2 separate regions of the Homo sapiens genome follow, and region 2 is reported to be linked to region 1. Evidence: microRNA targets listed by miRTarBase, many of them from high-throughput screens and not tested one by one. Region 1 holds a microRNA gene; the other region holds the end of a gene's coding sequence.

What was found. The annotated mature microRNA hsa-miR-301b-3p reads CAGUGCAAUGAUAUUGUCAAAGC and lies in region 1 at 2,047-2,069, shown strand. An mRNA with a match to its seed (bases 2 to 7 or 8) in the 3' UTR can be bound and repressed. Matches are read on the target gene's strand: a 7mer-m8 pairs with bases 2 to 8, a 7mer-A1 pairs with bases 2 to 7 and ends in A, and an 8mer does both.
Region 2: miRTarBase lists CYB5D1 as a target of hsa-miR-301b-3p. The part of its 3' UTR that is shown has no 7-base or 8-base seed match.

What each region holds. Positions count from the first base shown.
Region 1 is chr22:21,650,979-21,655,362 of GRCh38, forward strand. It overlaps MIR301B (microRNA 301b), which reads left to right and starts at 2,003; the gene lies at 2,003-2,080. MIR130B (microRNA 130b) reads left to right here and starts at 2,326; the gene lies at 2,326-2,407. It also overlaps the pseudogene LOC107985532. RefSeq lists enhancers at 788-1,458, 1,459-2,130, 1,667-1,716.
Region 2 is chr17:7,858,974-7,863,357 of GRCh38, forward strand. It overlaps CYB5D1 (cytochrome b5 domain containing 1), which reads left to right. Exons shown (of 4, transcript NM_144607.6): 4 at 409-3,309. The coding sequence ends at 639. It also overlaps a transcript of NAA38 not described here. Among named protein-coding and RNA genes, the nearest start is that of CYB5D1, 3.2 kb to the left of the region's middle. RefSeq lists an enhancer at 1-7.

The DNA of each region.
Region 1 (4,384 bases):
CACTCCTCCCTCTCTGTCTATTCCCCCACCTCCGTTACCACACATAGGTAAGCAGTGAGGTGAGGAGTGTTGACCAAGAGGAACCCAACAGTGCACAAGTGGGAATCCCTGGGCAACCAAAGCCCATGCTGTGGGAGCAGATAAGATTGTTCCAGGCAGAATGCAGGACAAGGCCAAAAATAAAAACTGTAGTGGCAGCAGAACTCACTTTCAGTGAACACTTACTAAATGCCAGGTGCTGGGCCAACAATTTACACAGCATCTCATTTGCTGCTGGCAACAGCCAGCCCTATGGGGCAGGTTTGATTGCCATCTCAATTTTGCAAGAAGGCAACAGGGGTTCATAAAGATTCAAAACCACCTCTGCCTGCCTCAAAAACATTTGCTCTCAGCCATTGGACCGATAATAAAGCAGGAGGGGTTGCAGGGGCACAGTTGTCTAAGCACAGCTCCTCCCTTCCCTCTAGGAGCCGTTCAACAGCCCGGTGATCAATATACTTCCTAGTCATCAGCGAAGGGTAGGCGCTTAATGAATGCTTCTCCGCAAAGTGGATCACAATCACGAAGAAACCAAAGCTTACACTTCCGTTCCCCATATCTCCCACAGATCCAAAAGACCACGGGGCCCAGGACCCGGTCTCCATAGCCCAGCCATACCCGGGGGTTTTCAGGAAAGCCTCACTCGCGTCCTGCCGGGCGATCCGGGGTGGTTGAGTTGGGAGGGGGGCTACCCCAGTTTGTAAGCCCACCACGTCCAAATATCCCATCCAGGAGGCGCAGAGAGCAACCTCAGCATGCATAACAAAGCAGCCCGCGGCCGCGTTCACAGCAGGCTTGGCGGGGGTTCGGGAATTTCCACAGGGTCTCGGCCTCCCCCACTGTGGGCTCGCGCCTGGCGCCCCTCACCGGGCTTCCAAGCGCTCTTGTCGGTGTCGCTAGAAAACTCGCAGAGATTGGAGCTGAGAAAAGGCGGGCAAAGTTCCTTTTGATAAGTTATGAATGGGGAAAAAGTGTTTGTAGAACTCATTGTTAAAACCACGGAGCCCGAGACTCGGCCGGCGCCGGGCCAATCGGAACCCGGAGGCTATTTTGAAATCTCTCCCGTCTCAGCCAACAGGCATGCAGGAGGCGAATCCCCGCGCCAGCGCCGGCCAATGAGCGCAGCGCTATGCTAAGGAGTCGGGGGCCCGGCCCCTCCGACTGTCAGCGGGTTAAAGATGGAGCCGGCAGGCGAGGGGCCGCCACGAGGTGCAGGGTCGTCTGGACGGGGACCCGGGGGCAGACGATGGCCGGGATCCTCTTCCGTCTAACCCTCCGCGTCCTGACCGGGCCCTGGGCGGAAGGGATGTCTGCGTGAGTCAGCTGTGTCTGAGGAGGGGATCCTGGGCTGGGCTGGGCGGCCCTACTCGGCGGGTCAGGCGGAGGGGCGCGGCCGGGATCCCGGGGGCCCTCTTTGGAGCAGGGAACTCTAGAAGGGCGGGGAGCCCCCATCCTCTGCTCCACTCTGGGCCTCCAGGCAGAAGAATATGTTAGAAAAGAATCCAGAGTGTATCTAGTGCAGGGCAAGGGGCCAGGGATGGAGTCGTCAGCTAGAAGGGGCGCGTCGTCCCGGGGTGGGGCCGCCCTTTTTCTCCTGGAGCCGCGGGCCGAGTCAGGGCGCAGGGTCGTCGGGCTGTACCCACCCCGCTCCGGGCGCTAGCCGGCTTTGGACTGCGGCTGAGTGCGGGTTCGTCTTTGTGTGTGCGCCCCCTCCCCTGCGTGGCCCGTCAGCTCCTGCTCCGGGATTGGAACAACCCCCTAGTCTGGGGTTTCTCCTCCACCTCAATCCGGAGCGTTCTGGGAAAGGCCTGGGTGTCCTGGGTTCTGAAGACCCCAGGGACGCACCCCGCTGCGGTCTCCTTCCCTGCCCGGATGGACTGGACGGGGGCTCTGCCCCACCCACCCATCCATGGTTGAGCTTCCCGCCCTGCGTGTATTGGGGGTGGTGGGGTCCCCCCTGCTGGCCGCAGGTGCTCTGACGAGGTTGCACTACTGTGCTCTGAGAAGCAGTGCAATGATATTGTCAAAGCATCTGGGACCAGCCTTGGGGATCTCCCTCCCTATAACCCTCACCTCCCACTCCCCAGGCAGGGCCCCTTGGGCTTGCAGGCCCTCCCCTCCCCCCTACCCAATTCGCTCCCTTCTCCATGGAAACTTGAGATTCTAGACAGGCCTGGGCCTCTGGGGTCAGAGGGCACCCTTTCCCCCCGGGCAGAGGCCCCGCCCCAGCCAGCCTGCATTCCAGGTCTCAGATCCCTGCAGACCACCCTGGGGGAGGCACTGGCAGGCCTGCCCGACACTCTTTCCCTGTTGCACTACTATAGGCCGCTGGGAAGCAGTGCAATGATGAAAGGGCATCGGTCAGGTCCAGCCTGCTACCCTGGGAGGGGGAAAGGGAGCTTGCTGCCTCACTCCACTTTCCAGTTGAGAAGGTTGAGGTGCCCAGAGGGTAAGTGTTTCCACTGATTAGGCACAGATGTGAAGCTGGACTGGACCCTCCATCAGAGGATCAGGTGGGTGCAGAGCTGGAGAATCATCCCTAAACTCTCCATCCTGTCATGGCTGGACAGGTGCAGGAGCAGACCTCCCCAGCTTCTGAAAAGCTCTTGTTTGAAGGTCTTTCCACATTGGGTCCCTGGGGTAAGACTGGAACTCCAGGCCTGGTCAGGGTCTTAGGGGAAATACACGCCCAGTCTTTTGCATGGAAGATCATTCTAGGCCTGGCTTGGGCCCAGTCCTTGCTGGAAGCTTGAACAGGGCCAGGCTCTGGAGAGAATGTTCTTCTGGGTGGCAGTTGGGTAAGGGGGTAAGGCAGGCCTTTCAGGAGGCAGCCTTCACCCCAGGACGTCAGCTGGAGTGGTACTATGGACTGACCAGTTGACTGATCAGTTGAGTGGACTCAGCTGGAGTGGTACTATGTGAGATGGATGGGTGGACTTGGGATACAAAGCCTGCAAATGATGTCTACCAACCATGCCAGTTTGTTCTCTTACAGAGAGGTGTGCCCTGAACCTGCAGGAGGGACTGAGGTGTCTAACATTCCAACCGTCCCAGCTGGAATACAGGGTTGGAGCTGAACTTCCAAGGAGCCTGACCCCAGGCATGCTTGGATGACCACCTCTACCATCAAGACCTGACACGGTGCAAAAGGTTTCTACGTGCCCAGTCACAGTCATTCAAATCTTCTTTAGAGGAGGACTAGGTTTCCAGATGGGCTTTTGGGAGTTCCCCTCATCCCTAGCTGGGCGCATTGGGAAACTGCTTTACCCCTACCCTGGGGAGAGAAGCCCTGGCACCCGTGGGAGGAACAGGGGCAATGACACATGCTCCTTGGCTTCCTAGTCCTGATCCCTTGGGGTTCCTTGATCCTAGGGTCATCTGACTTAGATCCATCCTCCCTTCCTCTAGGCACCAGGGGCCATGGCTGGAGGTGGCCACCCCTCAGTCCTGTACAGATTCTGTACCCACTGGCTGGAGACCCCCATGCAGCTGTCTCCTGCTCTTGCTGCGGGGAGACTGAACTCAGGGCTCTGCTCACTGGCTCCCTCCCAATGGAAGCCTTCTCTGGGCTTCACAGCATTGAATATTCCTCCAGAACAGCTTGTTAAATCAAATTTTTTTTTTTTTAGATGGAGTCTTGCTCTGTCGCCCAGGCTGGAGTGCAGTGGCACGATCTTGGCTCACTGCAAACTCCGCCTCCCGGGTTTAAGCGATTCTCCTGCCTCGGCCTCCCGAATAGCTGGGACTACAGGTGCTACCACACCCAGTAATTTTTGTATTTTTAGTAGAAACGGGGATTCACTATGTTGGCCAGGCTAGTCTCGAACTCCTGACCTCATGATCTGCCCTTCTGGGCCTCCCAAAGTGCTGGGATTACAGGCATGAGCCACCGCACCCGGCCTAAATCAAAATGTTCTCCCTGTGGCAGAAGTGTCCATTAGACTGGGAGCCCCTGAGGCAGAGACAACTGTCATTTAAAAAATCTCTGGCCAGGCGCAGTGGCTCATGCCTGTAATCCCAGCACTTTGGGAGGCCGAGGCAGGTGGATCACCTAAGTTCGGGAGTTTGAGACCAGCCTGACCAACATGGAGAAACCCCATCTCTACTAAATATACAAAATTAGGCTGGGCGCAGTGGCTCACGCCTGTAATCCCATCACTTTGGGAGGCTGAGACAGGTGGGTCCAAGGTCAGGAGTTCAAGACCAGCCTGGCCAAGATGGTGAAACCCCATCTCTACTAAAAACACACACACACACACACAAAAATTAGCCGGGTGTGGTGGTGGGCACCTGTAATCCCAGCTACTAGGGAGGCTGAGGCAGAGAACTGCTTGAACCCGGAAGG
Region 2 (4,384 bases), not on the chromosome of region 1:
AGGTCCCCAGGGTTGGGAATTCTAGGAGTGTCTGGGTCACAGGGGGACAAGAGACTCCTTTATAAGCCTGGGAACAGCAGTTCATGTATCTTAGTGATGGTGGTCCTTCGAAGCTCTTACACGCCGTTTTGGACAGCAATTGGACTTTCTTTTTAATCTACTCTGTTGCATGGATATAGTGAGGGGACAGTTGACCCTTTATGGCCATCCGGTAGTTAGAAGTGGCTGCCATTAAGATCTGTAGGACTTTAGGGTCTGCTCATTGCATGCTGGAGTTTCAGCTTTTTTTTCCCGGGGCCGTAGAGTACCTGAAGCTGCTATCTGCCAAGGGAGGCACTTTGATCCCAGCGTGTGTATATGTATACTCCATCCAGAATTCTGGGGGTGGGGTGCTTCTGTGTTCTCCAGGTGGGGGTTCTGGAGTCCATATGGGAAATCCTACACCGCTATCTCCCCTATAACTCACATGCTGCCAGCTACACGTGGAAATATGAAGGGAAGAACCTGAACATGGATTTTACCCTGGAAGAGAATGGGATCCGGGATGAGGAGGAAGAATTTGACTATCTCAGTATGGACGGTACACTTCACACACCTGCAATACTTCTGTACTTCAATGATGATCTCACGGAGTTGTAGGCAAGGAGATGTACACTCGTGTAGACTCAAGACGTATTTCGAGTTTGGCTTTTTCTGTGCCTTGAGGAAAAGTGGTGGGGCCGAGGGGTGCCTGGACCCAGATCTCCACTCCTCTCCAGGAGCTAGCCTGTGCCCTTCTGAAGTGTAAAGGCCCTATTCCCTGCCTTCATTACAGTTTGCTCTGAGAAAATTAGTGAATTAATCTTTGGGAATGATACAAGAAGATCAAGTACCTTGGTTTAGGGAGATGTAGAAGAGGATAGTCAGAGTTCAGGCAGAACTGTTTGATAGTTAAGAGAGAGTAGTTCTACAGGGGTGAGGGATGGAAGGACTTTTTTGGCAATGATGGAAATGAGATGTCTGCAGGAAGATGGGATTTACAAAGAAATAGGAAATGTTTATCATTGACCATACAAAGCTGGCTTATCTTACTTGTAGAAGAGTGTTTGGCAGCTGAAACCCAAGGGAAAGAAAGGAAGTGCGTCATTATAGGCAATTCAGGCTAGATATTATACTAGGTACTTCATATACCCTCTTTTTTTTTTTTGCCCCCAACAAAGAGAAGGGGTCTTGCTCTGTCACCCAGTCTGGAGTGCAGTGGCAAAATCATGGCTCACTGCAGCCTGGAGCTCCTGGGCACAAGTGATCCTCCCATCTCTGCCTTGAGTAGCTGGGACTTCAGGTGCACGCCACAATGCCTAATTTTTTAATTTTTTGTAGACACAGGGTCTCGCTGTGTTGCCCAGGCTGGTTTCAACCTCCTGGCCTCAAGTGATCCTCTTGCCTCAGCCTCCCAAATAGCCTCTTCAAGACAACTACCCCATAAGGTGGATTACCATTACTATGTTACAGATAAGTCCTTCGAAACTTTGGAAAGTTTAATAGCTCAAAGCCACACTAGGTAGTAACCACTAGAGCCAGAATGCAAATTCAAGTCTGCCCAACTCCAAAGTCCATGTTCTCTCAATATAAAGGGACCATCTCAATGTCTAATCTCATGTTAACATTTGTAGCCACTGCTCTCAGCAAGTATTTGGGATGTGGCTTTGTCCTAGGATCCCTGCACAATAGGAAATTGTGGTCCTATTGTATAGTTTGCAGTTATTGTCTCTGGAAGGGAGTTTGCAGAGTTCTCCTGTGGCGAAGAGGAGGCAAGGAAGGCTAAGTGTCAGTTAAGCAATAGCTATTGGGGCTACTTCTTTGTTAATCCCATACCCCAGATTTCTCTCCTGACCTTTTGGGGCAAAGAGGTGGGTATTTACTAACTTGAAGGAAAACTAGAGTGGGGAAAAGGCCGGCAAATTAGTGACACTTTGGCGAGGGAGAAAAAGGAGGCAGTTTGCCACTTGGAGAAGATGAGGAAGACAGGGTTGCAAGACGGTGACTCCAAAAGAGGGAGCTCGACAGGGGTAATGTAAACAGAGATGCTAACTAAGTCAGAAAACTCTCCTGGTGACCAAAAGAGAACCACTATTGGGGGTAATGGCTAGATTTGGTCTCCTTTAACTTAAGGAGGGGAGATTTGAGAATGACAGACAGTTGAACTTCCTGGCAGCAGCAAGCAAAAAACAAATCAGGAAGAGTTTAGTGTGTCTTCTGGCAGGGGACACCAGGGCCCAGCACAGGAGAAGGTGGCCCCTGTGAGATACTGGTGGGCTATATAGGCATTTTCTGAGGGGCTTTGGGAGGCATGAACAAAGGTGGAAACATTGCTGTTGGCTTCGGCAGTATCTGAATTTACTGTGAGATGGAGGGTTTAAATCTAACCCCATGGAATGCAGGAGTCCATGAATTATCTAAATCGATCATTTTGATCTTTAATCAACTCTGCAATTATGTGTACCTTGTTTGCTCAATTAAACCCTGAACTATTTGAGAATGAAAGCTATGCTGTTCCTCTAGTGCAAGCCTCAGGGCCTGTCCTGTGCCTACAGGATGTCCCCATTCTGCCAAAACCTGTCCCTCTTCCAGAGACTCCTACTTCAATGTCTCTTGCTAGAAACACATCCCTTTCCTCACACATCCAGTCACTCATCAAGTGTAATCTGTCTCCTAAATATCTCTGGAACCTATCTTCTTTTCTCCAAGTTACCATCACCTCTTGTCTAAACTGCTACGGAAACTTCCTAACCTGTTCTCCCATTTCCACTTCTGACTTCCATGCTGCAATGAGAGTCAGCTATGAAAAACAAACCTAAACATCGAACTTTCCTTAGCTTCTTCAGTGGCTTCCAACTGCTTTTGGAATAAAGTCCTAAATTCAAAGATCTTGTATAAATCAGGCTCATCTCGCAACACCCCTCTTTGTTCTCTATGGCCTAGACACACTGGCTTTCAGTTCATTACATGTCTTGCCTCAGACCCTCACACACTGTCCTCTCTGCCTGCAACACTCTTCCTTTCACTTTCCACCTAGCTGATCCTAAATGTTCCTTCCTCAGGGAGGTCTTTTCTGATTTCTTGGTGGGTCAAGACTTTCTGATAAATCAGTTAGCACCATGCATTTTCCAGAGTTTTTATTACAATTGTAAAATTATGGCTGTAATAGGCTGGCTGCGCTGCTAGATTGTAAGCTCACGAGGGCAGAGATCTTGTTCACATCTTGCTCACTGCTATATTCTCATTGCTGAGCACACAGTTGCAGCTCAATAAATTTTGAATGAACTCCAATGTTAAGTGAACTCATCCGTCTATACCTAGTGGGGGGGATGTTGTGTCCTAGTAGGCAAGGAAGGACCAAGAAATAGGATGTCTGGTTCCTGTGCTATAGTCTCTATCCATAGGATTCACTTTCCTTGCTTCCCCAATATCCAAAACCAAAAGTTATTCCATAGAGGGTCTCTGGCCAGGTGCAGTGACTCACGCCTGTAATCCCAGAACTTTGGGAGGCCGAGGCATGGGGATCACCTGAGGTCAGGAGTTCAAGACCAGCCTGGCCAACCTGGCAAAAGCCTGTTTCTACTAAAAATCCAAAAAATTAGCCGGGCGTGGTGGCACACACCTATAATCCCAGCTACTTGGGAGGCTGAGGCAGGAGAATCGCTTGAACCCGGGAGATGGAGGTTGCATTGAGCTGAGATAGTGCCATTGCACTCCAGCCTGGGCAACAAGAACGAAACTCCATCTAAAAAAAAAAAAAAAAAAGTTAAAAAAAAAAAAGAGGGTCTCACCAGATTTTTGGGGGCCAATCCATCTGTCATTTCCCCATATGGCCACCAGGTGGCTGTAATTACCTATAGAGTCAGGGAGACAAGCCTGGAGGGAAAACCCTTCCAAAGTTAGGATGGGAAGGTGGCCTTTGGAGATTTATAAGGGGGAGGGAAGGACAAGAAAACAAGGAAAAACCACATGGCCACCGTTCTATTAGCATTAGGTTTATGCCTGCTTTTTTTTCTCTCACAAGCACATGGCAGGAAAGGAGTGCAGTTAGGAATTCATGGGCTAGAACAAAAAGGAGGTCCTGATTACAGGTATGGGAGTGTATGGGGCAAAGTATGGAGCTGACAAAGGGATAAAGACATCACAAATTTTTAAAATAATAGAATGCATTCACTTATTAATACTTAAAAAAAATCTTTCCAGTAGGCACTGCTTTGTTCTCTAAATAGCCAAGTGGATATTTGCATGAGGAGTATGTAAATAATGCTTTAGCCTAAAACCCAGAAAGCAAACAGAACATGAGTGTAGGGTCCAAGTCCTCTTGTGGTAATCTCTTTTGTGTTAGAGGGTGGTGGGTGAAGGATGG